Linked DNA regions of Homo sapiens: all the other regions are reported to be linked to region 1. The links are microRNA targets in miRTarBase. Many come from high-throughput screens and were not tested one by one. Region 1 holds a microRNA gene; each other region holds the end of a gene's coding sequence.

Region 1 (5,079 bases):
TGGCTATGAGCTCTCTAATCCCTGCACCAGAGAGTATTTGATCTGTTTCTCTCTCTCTTTTTTTTTTTTTTGAGATGGCGTTTCGCTCTGTCACCCAGGCTGGAGTGCAGCGGCGCGATCTTGGCTCACTGCAAGCTCTGCCTCCCGGGTTCATGCCATTCTCCTGCCTCAGCGTCCCAAGTAGCTGGGACTACAGGCGCCTGCCACTATGCCTGGCTAATTTTTTGTATTTTTAGTAGAGATGGGGTTTCACCGTGTTAGCCAGGATGGTCTCAATCTCCTGACCTTGTGATCTGCCTGCCTCGGCCTCCCAAAGTGCTGGGATTACAGGCTTGAGCCACCGCGCCTGGCCTGTTCTGTTTTCTTTTATGCTTCTCATCACATTTTGACTTGCATTGAGTTATCAATGTGTGTGCCCCTTTCAGAAAGATCTTCCTGAAGCCATTTAGGCTGTGACTATTATGTCTAAGCAAGATATGTGAAGGGCTATGTGCCCCTTACAAAAAAATTGCTTGCTTTTCTGCAGTGAGCAAGAAGGGTGATGTTGTATCTAAAGGTTCTTTGTCAAAGTCCTTCCAGAATTTTTCTTGCTAGCTTAATAATCAATCAGTAGATAGAAAAGAGATATAGATAGATGTAGAAAGATGTGTCCAGCAGTGTCCCAAATAAGGTATAACTAATCTGTGATTGGATATCACTGTGCACTCTAAATTTCTTGCCTATGTGTAACAAGTAAGTCAGGATGTCCCCCCCCCACCCACCAACCTCCACACCCAAGAGTCATCTAGTTGTGTTAGAAGGTCTGCAGGTGGGCAGTGGCTCATGCCTGTAATCCCAGTGCTTTGGGAGGTCGAGGTGGGAGGATTGCTTGAGGCCAGGAGTTTGAGACTAGCCTGGGTAACATAGTGAGACCCCATCTCTATTTATTTTTAAAGGAAGATCTACAGGTGAAGGGCACATTCTTTTGTTGTCCACCTGTATTGCTGAGTGAGCTAATTCCAAACCAGCTCTGGGGCCTATGACCTCCATATTTGAGCAGAAGAATTAAAAAGTCTGTAAAATCCCTCATTGAAATTATCAGGAAATAAAGGGAAGCTAAAACCCTCTTAGTGTCTCATGGTTTTGATTTCATTGCAATCTAGAATTGTATATAGTGCAGTATCAATCATGGGAAGCTGCCCCAGTGTTGTCAGCCTCTGTGACAGTATTTTATTCTCACACTGTAGGGTAAATGCATTGAGGCAACCTTCATATTTCTCTCAATCCTGCGCAATCTGCAGTAACCAGCTTTCTTTGATTACCTAGATAGGCTCAGGGGCCTCTCCCTCTGCATTATCTACTAGATTCTCACTTTAACACATTATATACAGTTGTTTAAGTCTGCTACTCCAACTGTTAACTGTCTAACATCTTTTCTTATGCTGGGCTCCTGGATAGAATCTAGCACTTACTGAGAGTGTGATGAGTGAGTGAATTAGTTGACATTGGGTTGCCTTATTGATATGCCCGTCAGGCCAAGTTCCTTGACTTACTAAGGCCAGTGTATTATTTTCCATTACATTTAGTTCAGTGATATTTTAAAAATGTGCATAATACTAGCACATATTCAAATGCCAATTCACATGAGGGAATAATTTCCCAACAGTGTTATCTAGCTTCTTCTCAAGTTCCCTGGGTGGAGGTCAGTCTTTGTAGTTGATGTTGGGTTCCTGACCCAAACACAGCTTGTGCCAGTTATGGAAAGGAAAAAAAAAAAGGGCAGTTTTCCATGGTTTGGATAAAGAGGTGACCGTGGGAACATGTACAGCTCTGTCTGTAGTTCTGGTAAAGTCACTGAAAACGTAACCCAGCCCGGCTCTCTTTTGTACCCACAAGGAAATGGGGATAGACAAGGCCTGTCAAACAAGAGGAAATGGAGCAAAAGGAAATAGACCCATTCTGCAAAGCCATATGGCATATGCAGCAGAGGGAAGTGTTGGTCCCATTCAGGAGGGAAAATATCTCTTTAGCTATTTATTAGGAAACATTGAAGTAATCTTAAAAACTGTGCTATATAAAGAAAAGATATGAACCCCATCTATTCAATGGAAAAATCCAAATGCAGATAAAGGCTTATGAACAGAAATGAGTCATTATAGCACTGCTGATAATTGCCAAAAAATATGTAACAGCTGGGCGTGGTGGCTCACACTTGTAATCCTAGCACTTTGGGAGGCCAAGGCGGGCAGATCACCTGAGGTCGGGAATTCGAGACCAGCCTGACCAACATGGAGAAACCCTGTCTCTACTAAAACTACAAAATTAGCCAGGTGTGGTGGTGCATGCCTGTAATTCCAGCTACTCAGGAGGCTGAGGCAGGAGAATCCCTTGAACCCCGGAGGCAGAGGTTGCATTGAGCCGAGATTGCGCCATTGCACTCCAGCCTGGGCAACAAGAGCGAAACTTTGTCTTAAAAAAAAAAAAAAAAAAATATATATATATATATATATATATATATATATGAAACAAGCAACTGTATGATTATGAAATAGTATGTCTCACTGATTGTTATATAACTCAAAATTATTTTACGAGGAGATTGTAATCACGTGGGAAAATGCTAGCACTAGTGATAATGCTAGTGATTCAACTCCTGTTGAATCACTGCATTATTTTAAGATAGTGGTTCTCAAACTCCAGCATTCAAAGAGTGTAAGACAGAAAGCTGTATTGCTGGCCTAATTCTGTAAAGAAGAACACATTTATGAGCAAAAATGTGAAAGCAAATGTGCTAAAAGGTTTTTCTAGATAATGCTATGACTAGTGATTTTAATTTTCGTTTTTGTATTTTTAAAACTTCTACAACATATATGTGTTATTCCAAAAATCAAAAAGAAACATTAAAAAAATCCATGTAATCAATATCAAACACAAAACTTTAACTTTGCTCCCAGCAACAAATACATAAAATATTTAGGGGCATATTTTTATATCAAGGTGATTAAAGCACTGACCATGGGAATTTTATGACTATCCTATGGGAGGTTCAGCCATGGTGCTTAAGATACCCCTAGTGTCCTTCTCATCTCCTTTACACCAGCTCTGCTTGCAATCCTGCTGAGTCCTAAAATCCCCATGAGTAGGGGTGACTGTGAGCCATGGACGTGCTTAGCAAGACCAATTGGATTCCTTCACCTAGGAGTTTAAACTAGAGAACAGTGGGGAAGTGAGAAGATACACAAAGAGATGCCAGGTTCAAGGGGCAGCCACAGTAACTTTGACAGAATGCAGTGATCCCCAAAGAAGTGACTCTCTGGTGTCTACACTCCTGTGAATTCCCCTTTCATGCTGAGGCTGAGCATGGCCATAGGACTTCGTTTTGCCAGTGTGCCAATGCCTATCAAATATCTACCTGCCATGTTTGTCATAGGACAGGCAGATATGTGATAGGCATTGGCATATTGGGGTTGGCCCTCTTGGAAACCTGAAACCACCATGCCCTAAGAAGCCTGAGATGAACAACTTCATGGAGAGGGGCCCAGCCAGGCCAGGTTTATCTCAGTCGAACCCAGAGCAGACCTGTAGGAGAATCAACCAGCCAACACATTGCATCATGAGGACGGGAAAAATCATTGTCATTTTCAGCCACTAAGTTTTAGCAGTGTTTTGTTACCAGCAATGGATAACTGAGGCAGTCCCAATAGGAACTTTGGTTGAATCCCTGTATTATTTTAAGATAGTGGTTCTCAAACTCCAGCATTCAAAGAGCTGGGTCAAAATTCAAGTGTCTTTAGGGGAGAGACATTGTTGGCCTCATTTGCCTTTATATCCCAGTTCCTGGAATGGTGTTTATCACATACCTAGACCTGAAGAAATATTTGTAAATAAATGAACAAATGGATCTTGGGAGTTTGTTTAAAATATGCCCACCTCTGGAGATTTCTAATTTGGTAGGTCTAATTTGGTAGGGCGAGGTCCAGGAAACTGCATCTGAGTGATGCTGAGACAGGTGGCTTGCAGACCACATTTTTATCATCAGGGCCTCAAATTATCCTTGCAACCAAAAGAGGCAATTGACCAATCTTCCACCTGGCCGTGCATCAGAATTACCTGAGGAGCTTTTTAACGATATTCCTTCCAGATTCTCACCCCTGACCTACCAAATCTGAAAACCTCTGGAGGGGGAGACTCACACTCTACATTATTAAGAAGCTCCTGGGTGCAGCTGGTGCAGCTGGTCCACAGATTGGAGGGCATTTTTGCTGGCCTAACCAACACAAGTCTCCAAAAGCCATCTGGCAGCCAAACACACTTTTCTCACTCCTGAGAAGAACACACACCTACTCAGTTAAACATTATCACACTAATCTTTAAAGCTTTTTAAAAGACAGCTTTCATTTTTACGTCAAGAAATGTTTGTTAGGGACTCCTAAATCTCAGTGTCTCATCTGTCAAACAAAATTTGGTAACACCTGCTTCCTGAATGCCATGAAGACTACATGAGGTAAGGTGTGTGACCACACATTGAAACCGGAAACACCAAGCACAGGATTTTTAAGACTTTAATCATAAGTATGACATAAAGGAGATTAAAATTGTTTATCTATTTTTAGGTAATTATTCAGGGTTCTTTAGGAGGTACCTTGTTCCTCCTTAATCAGGGAGAGACAGGCCTTTGGGACCTCCTACACAAAATGTTTCAGAGAAGGGAAACCGTGGACACATTTCTTATTCCTGCACATGGTGTTTAAAGCACTGTGTGCTCTGAACCCTGCATTACCTTGTTCTTTCCTTCCCCTGGTCCTTTTCCCTCCCTCCTCCTGCCCCTAAGTGTCAGCCCTTCCAAAACACTAATGCAGTAGGCTGGTTCACATCTTTGACTAGCCCTGGCTCAAGCTGTGTATTATATCTGAAATGTTCTTAATTCATTAATTATTATTGAAACAGGGTCTCACTCTGTTGCCCAGACTGGGGTGCAGTGGCACAAACACGGCTCACTGCAGCCTCAACCTCCTGGGTCTAAGCAATTCTCCCACCTCAGACTCCTGAGTAGCTGGGACTACAGGTATGTGTACCACATCTGGCTAATTTATCTTAAAT
Region 2 (5,079 bases), not on the chromosome of region 1:
GTGGGTATGAGAAGGAAAATATATCACGAATTGACATACCTTCTAATATTATAACAAAATGCAAATTCCTCATTAGTTATTTGGAAATGGTTTCATAGATTACAGATAGTTATATTAACATAAAATTTTAATTAATATTCTTTAATAGAATATCATAGAAATATTTAAAACTTTTAACTGCCAAATAACTTGAAGATGTATAAAACTCCCTCCAATAAGATCCTTTATCTAGGCCAGACATGGTGGCTTACACCTGTAATCTCAGCACTTTTGGGAGGCCAAGGCAGTGGGATCACTTGAGGCCAGGAGTTCAAGACCAGCCTGGGCAACATAGCGACACCTCATCTCTACAAAAAATATGAAAAATTAGCTGGGCATGGTGGTGTGCGCCTGTAGTCCCAGCTACTCAGGAGGCTAAGGTGGGAGGATCGTTTGAACACGAAAGGTCAAGGCTGCAGTGAGCCGTGATCATGCTGCTGCACTACAGCCTGGGCAACAGAGTGAGACCCTGCCTCAAAAAACTAATAATAATAAATAAATCCTTTGTTTTTCAGCACAATTGATAATAACGTTTAAAGTCCTTTTGGTGAATAATTTAAACAAATTAAATACAAATCTGATTGGTTTTCTACTTGTTTATTTTTTTAATGTAGTTAATAACTGGAAGTATTTTATTTTGCAGGTGATCACTGTGTTCAGTGTTGTTGGAATGGATTCAGACTGGCTAATGGGGGAAAGGGGAAACCAGAAGGGCAAGGTGCCAATTACCTACTTAGAACTGCTCAATTAAGTAGGTGGACTATGGAAAGGTTGCCCATCATGACTTTGTATTTATATACAATTAACTCTAAATAAAGCAGGTTAAGTATCTTCCATGTTAATGTGTTAAGAGACTGAAAATACCAGCCATCAGAAACTGGCCTTTCTGCCAATAAAGTTGCATGGTAAATATTTCATTACAGAATTTATGTTAGAGCTTTCATGCCAAGAATGTTTTCTTACAAAATTCTCTTTTTATTGAGGTTTCACTAATAAGCAGCTTCTACTTTTGAGCCTCAACTTAAAGCAGAACTGTTTTCTACTGGATTTTTCATTAACAGCAAGCTTTTTCTTTTATGTAAAATAAATCTATTGTGAATTGATATCAGCGACTCATTTATTAGGTATAAATAATAGCCAAAGAATAAAATTAAAATTTATTTTAAACTTTCGGTCTTAAAAAGAGCTGTAGGATATAAACCTCTTTTGTGAAAAGTAGAATTTTCTGAATGCTTTCATAGACAAAAACGCATTTAAACTATGTTTACCTGGTTTTCCAACAGAAATCAAATGATTTTAATATTATGTTTTGATGGGTTATTTTCAGAGTTGTTTGGTTTTTTAAACACTACTGAATGGTTTCTTTTAAATTTAAGAACAACTAGTTCTTGAAAAGCAATACCGTATTTCTCTGATAAATTTGTAGTTAAGGTTCTAGAAAATCTAGGACAAATTTACTTCATTAAACATAAAGTTTTTAAGATTATTCAGTTGGCACAATTTAATGCATAATTGGGATTGGATCCATTTACTGTACTGTGGTACAGTAAAGAGAATGTGTTCTTATTGAACAGCAGATTTGTATACAAATACGGAATAATGCAACTACATTATAAATTGTATACGAACAAAATAAATTGGGTCACTCTGAGCTTACTATTAAAACATTGAAAATTTATTAATGAACACAGGCTATCTTGATGAGGATCTCTGCTTATGAAACACATACTAATGAAATTATTAGTGACACATTGGAAGCTAGAAAATTGCTGTTGGGGCCATTGCTATAAATCATTGTTTCCATGTTAAGACTTCTGTTCTAATTCATTCATTCAACAAACATTTGTTGAGGGCCAGATACTGTGCTGGTCAACTGGGGATACTGTCCTGAACAATATGCACACAGTTCTTGCCCCTGCAGAGCTTAAAGACCATTAAAGGATACAGAAAATTAAGCAATTATCCTATAGTAGGATTCGTGGTGTGATGGGGAAAATACAAGGTACTGTATTTGGGAGTCATGTAACTCCAGTTTTGGGAGTGAGAGAGGGTCTGGGGAAGAACTGTTCCAGATAAAAAGATGTGTAACCAAGATAGCATAGCACATTCTGACAACTAAAGCAATTTACTCTAACTTAAGCATGAAGTACAAAAGTATAGTTCATTTATTGAGGGAATGTTAAGCTATTAAAATGATACTTTTTGGTACTTTTAAAAAAATGAATACTTAAACACCGTTTTAAAATTTTGTGTTAAGAGCTCCTAATAAGAACTTGGTAAACATGTTGACAATTTAACTCACAGTCTAAACTTTAAAAGTAGTAGTTACCCTTTTATTTCTGTGCCATGAGACAAATTCTTCTGCAGTTTTATAGTTGTACAAGATGTTTTGACTCACTCTCAATTGCCATATTCTTAAAGAAACCCTGAAAAGCTGCTCAAGCTGGTCAGTTTTCTGTAAAACCAAGTAAATGAAATTTTCTCTCCCCTCAGAAAGGAAGTTCTACAGCCTAGAGTACCATCTATTGTGTTTTATAAGTCCAGATTTAGGCTTTGAAAGATCATACCAAAACTTCAGATCGACTTAAACAGCAACTATGAATTAGGTTTATGGGAAATGTAGTAATACAGGGGAAAGAATATCGGTAATGGAGTGAAATGGTCCTGGGTTCAAATCCAGTCTTCCTCACATATTGTGCTCTTTAAGCTTCAAATGAGATGTATAACTGCCTTTTCCTTACCAGTAAAATGAGGACAATAATTATGACACCATAGGGTGGTTGTGAGGATTAGCAAATGTTATCTTGTATTTCAGGTGCCTTTCAGGGAAAGGCTTGGCACATAGTAAACACATCCTGTAAATATCAGTTTCCCCTTGTTAGCCCCTGTAGCATCCTGACCTACCAAGTCTATAGGCCTTGCATATCACTGTGCACCAGAGATACCTCTTTTACATCTGGGCTCTGTTTTCTCTCTATCAATCCTATCCTCCACCCTCTTTAAATCAGACCCCAGGTTTAACCTTCCCACAGTCAGTATAAATCATTTTTCAGAACTTTCAGCTTTCCATCAAGTGAAAGTTGATTTTAGTTACCCAGTAATGTACAGAAACCTTCAATAATGTTAAGCTTCAAAGGCTTCTGGTACGTTTGTCTACCACAGAACCACCACAATATATATGCTTGTTCTTAGGTTTATTGCTTTTTATTTTAATGGGGTTTGGTTGTTTGGGTTTTATTTTGGTTTTGGCTTATTTTAAAGTCAAGTTTAGTTTTTACTCAGGTAAAGGCCTGAAGTTTCTTGGGCGTGGAAGAAAAAGCTTGGGAAGCCTATTAATTCATGGTGCAGTTCAGAATTGTTTAAATAAGCTCTGTGCCACTGAGCTTAATCTGAAAGTATAGTGACATGTGAAGGATGCACATATGAATGAAAAACTAAAATAATTGTAGGCTCTTCTATAAATGAAAAAAAAAGTGATTGGATTGTGTCTACCTTTTTCCTCAAAGTAATCTAACCTAAACGGTCATGGTGTTAAAACTTTTTATGGTGCTAATCAGAAAAATTGATGTTGCAAGAAATGAGGTCTCAAAAATGGGAATGTGCCTCCTCACTCTGCGTCACATGGGAAATAAATCCTGAGGCCAGGATCACCAGTGGGGTAGAGTCATCTTCATAGTCTCCTGTTATCCTCCCCCTGAACAAAGAACAAAGTGAGACTGGGAAGCTAGTGTTGGGGAAACATTTCTGGGATAAACTGTGGAGTGGAGAAGACAATGGAGGGCAAGGCAAAAACCCACAGACTTGTTTACCCATAGAGGCCCCACTCACCTCCATGCTGACAGAATTCCAGAAAAATTCCTTCCCTATCTCCCAAACACCTGAAATTCTGAAATATTGCCCTACTATTTAGCACTTTAAGCTTCAGTGAGGTGCTGTAATGGAGAGATAGCTTCATAGTTTAGCCTATAGCCAACTTTGCCTCAAGACCTCCAGATAAGATGAAGTGGCTTTTACCTCATGTGAGTCTCAAACGCTGGAGAGAGAGTTCCACAACCACCCCTGCCCTTTCTCCCATATTACGCTCATTAGAAAGTCTACTCAGGGCTGGGTGCCGTGGCTCATGCCTGTAATCCCAGCACTTTGGAGGCTGAGGCGGGTGGATCATCTGAGGTCAGGAGTTCGAGACCAGCCTGGCCAACATGGGGAAACCCTGTCTCTACTGAAAATATAAAAATTAGCCGGGCATGGTGGCGTGCACCTGTAATTCCAGCTACTCGGGAGGCTGAGGCAGGAGAATCACTTGAACCCCAGAGGCAGAGGCTACAGTGAGCCAAGATTGCACCACTGCACTCCAACCTGGGTGATAGAATAAGACTCTTGTCTCAAGGAAAGAAAAAATGTCTACTCAGTAGAGCAGTGATTGGCAAAGTGTGAGACCCCAGACCGGCAATATTGGCATCTCCTGGAGACTTGTTTAAAATGCTGATTACTATTTTCAAGAACTTTCTACCTTCATTTTTACTTATTTTTTGTTTTCAAGGGCTCATGGAATCAGTCTTCCATGTGACAGCTTTTTAAATATTTTAAGACAAAAACTGAGTCTTCTAATCTTAATTGTGTTCTAGCAGTAGTCATTGTAATTATAGTTATTTTTATAATTTATTTGTTTAGTGTATATCTGTCACTCTAGAATGTAGGCTCCCTGAGATAAAAACTATAATTCTTTTGATGGCAGTTACATTCCCAACTCTTAGCACAAGATCTAGGACATAGTATGAACTCAATAAATTTTTGTTGAATGAAAGAAAAATGCAAATTTATAAGCCTTTTCAGAGACCTACTGAATCAAACTCTGAGAGTGGAGCCCAGCAATCTGTTGTAAAAGCTGTTTGAGTAATACTGTTGCACTCTAAGCTTGAGAACCACTGCAATAGAACTAAGAGAACATTCATTTCACCTTCAGGCCTATTCTCTGACATCACTTGAAAAATCCTCTCTGCCTTCTGTAACCCTTAACCAACAACAGTGCCCTGTCCATGT
Region 3 (5,079 bases), not on the chromosome of region 1:
GTTTTGGAACGAGGTGAGAAAATACACTTTGGGATACTGCCCTAAAGGATTTGTCATATTTTCCAAATGAGTCAACGGTATTTGGTGATATATCTTCTGTTGACAGAATAACAGAGATCAAAGAGTAGAAAAGGGTCTGACTTCTTACTATTGCATATGACTTACTGATATAAAATATATTTTGCTTTCCATTGTAGTAGAGAAGAGACAAGCTCCGAAGGCCCCTGAACATGCCTGTATATTATTACTGAGTGTGCCAGACTGCAAGCCGTATCCATCTCCTGATGCTAAGCAGTTTCTGTAGTTAGTCATATAGGCACCTAAGTAGGTCAAGGCAATCACAGCATTACTACCATTTAACTGCTGCTCCCTGGGGGAGAGAGACTAGCTTGTTTGTTGTTTGCTCAAAAACTGCTTGATTCTTGATCCTGGATTCTTCTGTAATGCAACCCCCCATGTGCACAGACGTCATCCGGCCCTCTGCATCACACTGTGGGAATTGGGCTACGGGAACTGATGCAAATATGCGGACACTCTGGCTTCTATTTTGCTGTAATAAAGCTGTTTTGTCTTTTGTCCAGGAGTATCCTGTCATCATCCATGAAACTGCAGCAACCTAGCCTGTAACCTTGCAAGTAGGATAAAATCTCAGACCCTTCACTACTCTTGCTAGCCATCTCTGAGTCCAGGTTCTGTTGGTATAGCAATTTTTGTGCCCAGCTGGAATTGCCACCCAGCCATTTTGACCTCATTCCTCTAGGTAAGGTTAGAGAAAGTGGTGATGGTGCTAGCTGGAGTGATTGGCCCTGATGACCATGGAGAAAAGAGAGTAGGGAGAACAGTATAACCAGAAGTCAGGGGGGTCTCCTGGAATCCCTCCTCACAATACCATGTTTTTATATTTTATTTTAAAAAATACCATGCTGAATGGTAACATTTACATATAAGACTATTACAACCATATATAGGCAAGACCACCCACACCTCAGATCCTCTGTCATCCACTGGATACATAAATCTGATCAGCAGAGGTGCTGCTTGAACATAAAGAAAACAGAAAATAGTTGGCAGTGGTGAGAAGTCATAACCATCTAGATTCACGACCACTGACAGGACTAAGTACTGTATTTGCGACGTGTTATTAGAGAAATTTGGGACATAAAACATGCTGCTGCTTTTACACTATCCTGAAAATTCTGATTCAGGTGGTCCGTAATAAGGTCCTAGAATGTGTATTTTTAAAGTAGTCTAGGTAATTCTTGGCACGGACATTGCAAAGCCCTGCTCTATTTTGTTTTCTTCCTCACTGGCTCATGCATGTTTATAAAATTTTCTCTTATTTCATATGTATATATATATTTGAGTTGGGGGGTCTCCCTGTCGCCCAGGCTGAAGTGCAGTAACTCACTGCAACCTTGAACTCCTGGACTCAAGTGATCCTCCCACCTCAGTCTTCCAAGTAGCTGGGACTACAGGTGCATGCCACCAGGCTCACTTAAATTATTTTCTAGAGATGGGGTCTTGCTATGTTGCCCAGGCTGGTCTTGAATTCCTAGCTCAAGTGATCCTCTCACCTCAGCCTCCCAAAGTGCTGGGATTACAGTCATAAGCCACCACGCCCAGCTTCTTTCCTATTATACTGTTATTATGTATAGGGGTGGTGGTTAGGTCACAATTTTGTCTATGAGTTGCACACTATTGAGATGAGATTATTACAGAATCAGAGAACATCACACTGAGGTCCTGGACTTAAAACTGGATGAGGGATAGTAGTACTATGTCAGAAAGATGCATTTTAAATGTGTAAATATGGAGAGAATTATGCTTGCAGATGTTGGGAAGACAAAAAGATGGACTATATTACACCTGATGTGTTTTTATATTTGGTGCTGTCATCAAACCCATTTCATATGTTTGGTTAACCTTGGTAGAATAAAGGGTCCCATTTTCTACTGTGGAAACTAACGAGGTCAGATACATCTGCTGTCTTTGATGCCTGACAGCCCAAGCACTGGCACAAGACTTAAACTTGGTCAGTTGGACATTCTACTACGCTTTGAATCTGAAGTGATAAAACAAGTACTTGAAATCCAGTTTCCAGGGTCATCCTGGCTAGAGAAGAATACAGTCATTTAGCTCTGAGGTCATCAGAACTTGGCTATGCTTTTGGTCATCTACTTTCCTTTGGCTTCTATTTGTTTTCCAAACCTGGCTCTCTAGCCTTTCCATCAATTCTGTGAGCTACCTGATCCTCCTCCAATAAATTCTTTTTCTGTTTAGGTTGATCATAATTTTTTTTGTTGTTTGCAACCAAGAACTCTTACTGGTATACTTCAATGAGATTCATTCTCTAAAGTAAGAGTCAATAATACCATTTCAGATCATTGTTTCCTCTCTCCCCCATAACTGTACCCCATCTCCCACAATCTGAATTTGGAGGTGAATAGTGTGTGGTGGTTTCCCAGATAAATCAAGTAAGTTAAATTTGTTAGATTTTAAACCATGAACACAGATGTGCTTTTAGAACTGTATTAAAATAACCAAAAACTAATCAATCAACTATGATAAGAGCAATTTCCACTCAAATACTATTTATATGATTGAGTCCTTTGATAAACCTGAAAATTATCCAAACTTTGAATATGCACATTTCAAACTCAGAGCCAAGATATAGGAATATAAAAAATGTGCTTGGCAAAAATATGTGGTGGCTAATTAATATATTTACATTTTCTAGTTATAATGCACTTGGGATATTAGTTTATAAAAATTTTGAGTACTTTCTAAAAAGTAAATAATTATCAATAGCAATCAAAATTATTTTAACTATAATAATATATACAAAAGATATAAAAATACAAAGGCTACAAGTTATATAATTAGGCTGGTCTATGTTATAAATAAAATATATATACCTCTAGTATTCAGAGAATAAGCAAAGGATTACAAGGGTTGTAGCTGTTCCTCCAGATAGCCATTTGTTCATTTATTAACACCAGAGGCAATAACAACGCTAAAAATAAACATGCATCAATTGTACAATAAATACTTACAAAAACCTCTGTCTGTCACAATTAGTGAGTGCAAACAGAACTTCTACCCAACCTTAGTGCATTTTTATTTTCACAAGTAAAACAGAAAAGGAAAATAGTGAATTTAATGCTATTCAGCACCTTTAGTAAAGTCAAAAGACTCAACATCTCCATATATCAAAAACATTTGCATCTGTATCACCAAACATGTAAAGTTAATTATTTTGTTCCATCTTTAACATGAATTATTTTATTTACATTACTTTTTAGTTCAATAAATTTTAACAATATTTAAAAATTATCTAAATTCATAAAAGTATTTCATAAATTTCAACATTTAATTATTATGTACATATAAGGAAGTCCATGAAAAAAGTTAAAAGAAAATGTAGTCATAAAGTTCAAGCAACATTACCAATTTAGCAAAAATTCCAACCAAATCAAGGCAGAGGGCATTCAAACATTCAAAAATCTTTATCTGCTGCCAACATGTACAGGAACATTTCCAGTAATAAAAGTCAGTATGAGAAATAATGTTGAAATCACCAGTAGAAAATATATTTTAATAGGCATGAAATATGTTTAAGCAACAGTAATGACTTTATAGAAAACTTGTATTACACTGTTTTATATGAACTACCTGGTTTGATTGTATGATAAAGTTGTATTTTAGAACTACAGAAGTTGATTTCAAAAAATATATTGTAGCAGCCATAATTTTATTTCCAGTTAAAACACAGTAAAATGTGAAAAGAAAAATTTATAATTAACTAAATAATACCCCCAGTATTAGAAAATTTTAAATCCCATGCTATTCTAGCAATAATGGTCTCTAATATAATGTAGTCTGATGTAAGAATTGTGGAAAGCCAATAATAAACAATCAGACACAGGTATGGGCTTAAAGTTTCACTGAAATACTTAGGTAGCAAAATATATGAAAAAGTAATAGAAAAGTAAAAAGATAAAATTAAAAAAATATTGCACAGCCACATTACCTAGAAAGTAAAGTTGATGTTTAAAAAGCACTAAACATGGATGATATAAATTATCTTCCATATAAAAAGGTATAAATATTTCTTAGAACTTATCAGCATCTACATTTTAATATAATACATTATTTGAAACATTGTTGAATGAGGTAATTGTCCAGTCGCTAACAATGCTTTTATACTATTGGAAATATTTGAGGGCAGCAACCAGAAAGAATTTCTCTAAAAATATTTCCGAATCAAGAACAGCTATATGTGCAGCTCTCCCAATGAGTGAATCAGCTGTATTGGGCAATGCATTGATGACATTATAGCGAACCAAATTACAGTCCTTGCTTTGCAGAACGGGTCGAAGCAAGTTGTGGATCATTTCTGAATAGATCTGTCCTATGGAACCAACAGAAAAAAGGAAAATTAGTTCACAATAGTAACTGAAAATAAAAAAACTATGCCAATTTTTAGATAAGTTATAAAATTTAGTTACATTATTTCCATATAAAGCAGAAAAATGGCTCTTTTTAAAAAGGTTTAATTTTCCTTCAACTATCATTTTTGGTTCTGTTTATAGAAAATGTAAGTAATCACATTATCTAGTCAAGTGGAAATAACAAATTTATTATACATTATTCTTGAAATTTGATTTTTTTTTTTTTTTATTTTTGAGATGGAGTTTCACTCTTGTTGCCCAGGCTGGAGTGCAATGGTGTGGTCTTGGCTCACTGCAACCTCTGCCTCCCGGGTTCAAGCCATTCTCCTGTCTCCGCCTCCTGAGTAGCTGGGATTACAGGCATGCACCACCACACCCAGTTAATTTTTGTATTTTTAATAGAGTTGGGGTTTCACCATGTTGGCCAGGCTGGTCTCGAACTCCTGACCTCAGGCGATCCTCCCGCCTCAGCCTCCCAAAGTGCTGGGATTACAGGCGTGAGCCCCTGCGCCCAGCCGAAATTTGGTATTTTTAACTCAAAGCAATGCCTATAACAAAGAAATAGTTTTCTTTAATGTTAAGTCACTTATAACTCATTAAACAATTATGAAAATAAGCTAGACATGGT
Region 4 (5,079 bases), not on the chromosome of region 1:
CTCCCTAGTAGCTGGGACTACAGGTGCCCGCCACCACACCTGGCTAATTTTTTTTCTATTTTTTTTTAGTAGAGACGGGGTTTCACCGTGTTAGCCAGGATGGTCTCGATCTCCTGACCTCGTGATCTGCCTGCCTCGGCCTACCAAAGTGCTGGGATTACAGGCGTGAGCCACCATGCCCAGCCGCATGGTCCTCTTTTAATTATTTATTTAGCTACTTAATTAGGTTTTTAAAAAAATCATATAATAGGCTGAGTGCAGTGGCTCACACCTGTAATCCCAGCACTTTGGGAGGCCAAGGCAGGAGAATTACTTGAGGCCAAGGGTTCAAGACTGACCTAAGCTACATAGGGAGACCCTTGTCTCTACTTTAAAAAAAAAAATCACGTAATAAACACCTGAAAAAGCAGAATCTAAGACAAAAGCTAAGCTTTGTCCTCTAACCATAGGGCCCTGTCCCTCTCTCATCCTCTACCTCTCCCCATTTGAAGGAATCATCATTCAGGAATCCCAGGTTCTCCATTTCCTGTTGTCTTAGTCTTCCTAAAAGCAGAACGCAAGATGGAGATTCTTATGCAAGTGATATGAAGGGGAGTTGTCTCAGGAGGAGAGTGAGGAAAACAGGTGGGGCAGGAAAAAAAGCTAAGCAAGGATGACTTGCCTGAAATCATCTGGAGCTCTAGCCCGACCCCATGGGAGCTCTGGAACACTTGTTGCGCCAAAGTGTTGATCCCACCTTGAAGCAAAGAGCTAGCTGTGTGTACGCCTGAGCCAGTCTGTCATGGGTGGACATTTGGGATGATGGTAAAAGAAAAGACAGGTGCACAGCCTCCTGGGTGAGGCAACCCCCATTTGGCCAAGAGCAATTCTTTAGAGAGGGATGTAGCCCTGAACATTGGCAGCCAATACTTAACAGCCACTGGGATCTGTGCATTCAGCCAGGAAGCGGGGTCTGGATATGTCCACTATGGCTTGCTTCTCTCTTTATATAGTTTCATCAAAATTTGTATATCTTCTATAAAAGTATGCATACATTTTTTTTCAGGTGTTTGGATCTTTCTAGAAGGGAAATCATACTAAATTTTGTTTTGACTGTTGTATAATATCTCAGTATGTGAATGTACCATACCTTTTTCACCCATTCTCCCACTGATGGTATTCTGAGTTATTTTTAGGTTTTTACTATTGTGAACAATGTTGCTGTGAACATTCTTGCCTATGTCTCCTGCTGTACAATTGCAAGAATTTCTTGAGGCCATGCCTAAGGTGGAATAGCTGGATCATAAGGTGTAAACTTGAGAAGATGTCAAACTGTTTTGTAAAGTAGTTTTACTAATTCAGCTGCCCACCAATAAGGTATGAGACTCTGCCATTCACATCCTCTCCAACTTTTTGATTTTTGTAAATTGAATGAGTATAAAATGGCATCTCATTGCAGTCTTGATTTGTGTGTCCTCAATCACTAATCATCCTTTCATATGTTGATCAGATATATCTGCTTCTTCTTTTTTTTTTTTTTTTTTTTTTTGGAGACAGGGTCTTACTCTGTCACCAAGGCTGAAGTGCAGTGGTTTGATCATAATTCACTACAGCCTCAAACTCCTGGGCTCAAGCAATCCTCCCACCTCAGCCTCCCAAGTAGCTGGGACTACAGGTGCACACCACCACACCCAGATAATCTTTTTCCTTTTCTTATAGAGACATTGGGGGCGGGGTCTTACTATGTTGCTGAAGCTGGTCTCAAACTCCTGGGCTCAAGTGATCCTTCCACCTCAGCTTCCTGAGTAGCTGAAACTATAGGTGCTTGCCACCACACTCAGCTAATTTTTTATTTTTATTTTGTTTTTATTTTTGTTGAAACAATGTCTCACTTTGTTGCCCAGGTTGGTCTCTAACTCCTGGGCTCAGGCAATCTTCCCACCTCGGCCTCCCAGAGTGTTGGGATTATAGGGATGTGCCACCATGCACGGCCTGTGCTTCCTCTTATGTGAAATGCTTCGTTATACCTTTGGTGCATTTTTCTATTGGGTTATCTGTGCTTTCTTTATTGATTTGTTGAAGTTCTTCATACATTCTTTGTCTGTTGTTTGTATTAGAAATATGGTGAACATCCTCTCCTGGCCTTTAACTTGTTTTCTCCGTTTCTATATCTTTTAATGAACAAAAGCTCTAATTTCATTATAGTATCTGGCATTTATGTCTCGTTTAAGCAGTCTTTCCCTTGGCCGGGTGTGGTGGCTCACATCTGTAATCCCAGCACTTTGGGAGGCCAAGGTTGGAGGATTGCTTGAGGCCAGGAGTTCAAGACCAGCCTGGGCAACATAGCAAGGCCCCATCTCTCTATAGAAAGAAATAATAATAAAATTTTAAAATAAATCTTTCCCTTAAGGAATCTGAAGGATAATCTGAGTCTGAGGGGAGTGATCACAATTAGGCCCAGGTCAGAGGCCAGTCACAGAGGCAAGCTTGTTTATGCTTACCGAGGCACAGCATAACTGTCTGAGGCAGTCCTGACCAGCCAGCACAAGCGGCCAGCTGGCTGACTGGCAGGTGTGCTCTGGCTATAGAACTGGATATATCATGCTATTAGAGCTGGGTGCTATTAAAAAGTCTAATCATAGACTTTAATTAACTTTCCTTGCTCTGACGCCCGCTCACTAAGCAACCTTCTGATTATAATTTGGCTTCCCATGTATCTTGCCTACAGGGAGAGAATGTACTGCTCAGGCCGACGTGAGGATCCAATCCACTCACCGGTTACATGCCACGATGTAAATTAATAAATTCGCATTCTGATTTTATCATCTGCCTCATCTGAGGTCTGTAGGCGTGAGTCAGCATCCCCTAGTTTAATCAACATGGACACTGAGACTATCAAGCTTTTGAGCTGAAAAGCTAAGAATTAGACCCAGGACCAGAGTGAAATCACCAAGGTAACATTGCCCTGGAGGCCCCTTGGCCTGATGAAGGAGGACTTCTTACATGTCATGCGATACAGACAGGGATTAAAGTCGACTTCTGACATTATAAAGAGTTGCATATTCAAAACTATAGCTTGGTTCCATTCAGGTGAAGGCAAAGAATAGGAGATGATCATGAAACTCACATTGAATATTTATTGGCTTATAAGCACACACCAGATGCTGTACAAATCCTAGGCAGGAGGTTAAGATTTACAGACATGTTTGGTAAAAGCAAAAAAACAAAAACAAAACAACAACAAAAGGACAGATGGTACGTGCTGAGGTGAAATGAAACAAGAGGCAGCTGGTTGATGAATTCTTGCTCTACTTAGGAACTTGTGGTCCAGGATACAAAATAGACAGACACACACACACAAACACACACACACACACACACACACACACACACACACACACAAACCAGGACAAGGAAACACAGGATACACCACAGCACAAATGGGAATGTGCCAGGGCAGTGAGATTATCCAGGCCAGATGAGTGATTTAGGACCTGTAAGATGAGGCCTAGATCTTTGAAGTGAGTTCAAAAGGCAAAGAGGAGGTAAGCCCATTAGGACAGATGGGGATAATTTCACCATCCTGCAATTTAGATGGTCACTTCACCCAGCCTTCCTGGGCACAGTACCTACAGTGACACAGATCCCCTCCCGCCATCCTGGTCACACTGAATAACAAAGGGAAGAGAGGAGTAAGAACTGTAGTATCTAGAAATTCTCAGCACAGTGAAGGAAAGTGATCTTCTACTTTGTATTCAGGCCTAAAAAAGGAGGGGACGGGCCCGGCACAGTGGCTCACACCTGTAATCCCAGCACTCTGGGAGGCCAAGGAGGGCAGATCACCTGAGGTTGGGAGTTTGAGACCAGCCTGACCAACATGGAGAAACCCTGTCTCTACTAAAAACACAAAATTAGCCAGGCATGGTGGCATGCGCCTATAAACCAAGCTACTCAAGAGGCTGAGGCAGGAGAATTGCTTGAACCCAGGAGGCAGAGGTTGTGGTGAGCCAAGATCGAGCCATCACACTCCAGCCTGGGCAACAAGAGCAAAACTCTGTCTCAAAAAAAAAAAAACAGGAGAGGAGGGAGGGAGAGACCTTCACTGATATCCCTACAAGATTTGCTGCTCAAAGGAAAATATTTTCCAGGAAGACTGCGAGAAATTAAAGGAAATTCTACATCATCTTTGAGACCCACCTAAAGACAAGTGGTGTCTCCCACAGTGCCACCAGAGCAAGGTCACTGGCTTGGCTAGATGTGGATGAGGGTAGAGAATCATCTCAGATGTTCTTTGGTTCTAAAAATGAGGTAGAGAGAGACATGCCACCCAGGAAGGGGTGATGCTGAGTGCAGCCGCCCAGCCAGCAGGGTGGAAGGAGAAACAGACAAAAGGCTCATCAAAAACAGCAGGACCAAAATTGAGCAGGCTGGCAGAACCAGTTCTTGCAGGGACACTGCCAGGACACACGACTCCAGGGAGCTGGCTGGAGAGGGGCAGGCCTGTGTGCTCCACAAACCCAGAGGGCTCTGACTCACACAGGTAGGAAAGAGCTCCTTTAACAATGGCCTCAGTGCGTGCACGTGTGGGTACAAATAAATGTAGACAGAGCAGAGCCATCGCCTAGTAGAGGTTGTCCCGCACATGCTCCATGATGGTCTTCAGCCCCAGCCACGTCTCCTCTGCAGTGGGGATGATCTGGTTAGCTGGCAGGAGGAAGCCATAGGTCCCGGTATCTCTCAACTCAAATGTGAATGCAAATTTGATGCCGTTGTCATATGCCCAGTCGATGCTGCTCCCGCTAGCTGGATCTGTAAGTCGGAGGACAAAACACTCTTGAAGCCCAGTTCCCTCCTGGGTTAGATGGGAAGGGGCCAAGAGCTCTGCCTGCCTGGGGTTCCTTAAGGAATCCAGAGTTTGCTCCTCAAGTCATCAGTCCTATGACAAAATCATCAGCCTGATCCCTATGTCTCAGGACATCCTGCATTGGCCTGAGGTGCACACTGGTCTCAAATCAAGAGATCTGAAACCCCTACTCCCACCTTATTACTAACGCTGTGTCCGTCCTGTAAGTCCCTCAAAACCAATCTCTATAGAGAGTA

What was found. Region 1 holds the annotated microRNA hsa-miR-3927-3p (CAGGUAGAUAUUUGAUAGGCAU, at 3,373-3,394, opposite strand). A microRNA usually pairs through its seed, bases 2 to 8, with sites in the 3' UTR of a target mRNA and lowers its output. Matches are read on the target gene's strand: a 7mer-m8 pairs with bases 2 to 8, a 7mer-A1 pairs with bases 2 to 7 and ends in A, and an 8mer does both.
Region 2: the mRNA of SH3GLB1 is a reported target of hsa-miR-3927-3p. Seed matches in the 3' UTR shown: 7mer-m8 at 3,527-3,533 and 7mer-m8 at 4,545-4,551.
Region 3: miRTarBase lists FAM135A as a target of hsa-miR-3927-3p. Seed matches in the 3' UTR shown: 7mer-A1 at 3,955-3,961.
Region 4: the mRNA of CPA4 is a reported target of hsa-miR-3927-3p. Seed matches in the 3' UTR shown: 7mer-m8 at 4,286-4,292.

Annotation. Positions count from the first base shown.
Region 1 is chr9:109,508,108-109,513,186 of GRCh38, forward strand. MIR3927 (microRNA 3927) reads right to left here and starts at 3,438; the gene lies at 3,368-3,438. It also overlaps a transcript of PTPN3 not described here.
Region 2 is chr1:86,742,446-86,747,524 of GRCh38, forward strand. SH3GLB1 (SH3 domain containing GRB2 like, endophilin B1) reads left to right here. Exons shown (of 9, transcript NM_016009.5): 9 at 683-5,079. The coding sequence ends at 790. Among named protein-coding and RNA genes, the nearest start is that of SH3GLB1, 40 kb to the left of the region's middle.
Region 3 is chr6:70,559,048-70,564,126 of GRCh38, reverse strand. It overlaps FAM135A (family with sequence similarity 135 member A), which reads right to left. Exons shown (of 22, transcript NM_001162529.3): 22 at 2,953-4,411. The coding sequence ends at 4,206. Among named protein-coding and RNA genes, the nearest start is that of SDHAF4, 5.3 kb to the left of the region's middle.
Region 4 is chr7:130,322,198-130,327,276 of GRCh38, reverse strand. CPA4 (carboxypeptidase A4) reads right to left here. Exons shown (of 11, transcript NM_016352.4): 11 at 3,097-4,788. The coding sequence ends at 4,601. The region is part of intron 1 of LOC105375503 (a long non-coding RNA gene); the gene reads left to right. Among named protein-coding and RNA genes, the nearest start is that of CPA5, 20 kb to the left of the region's middle.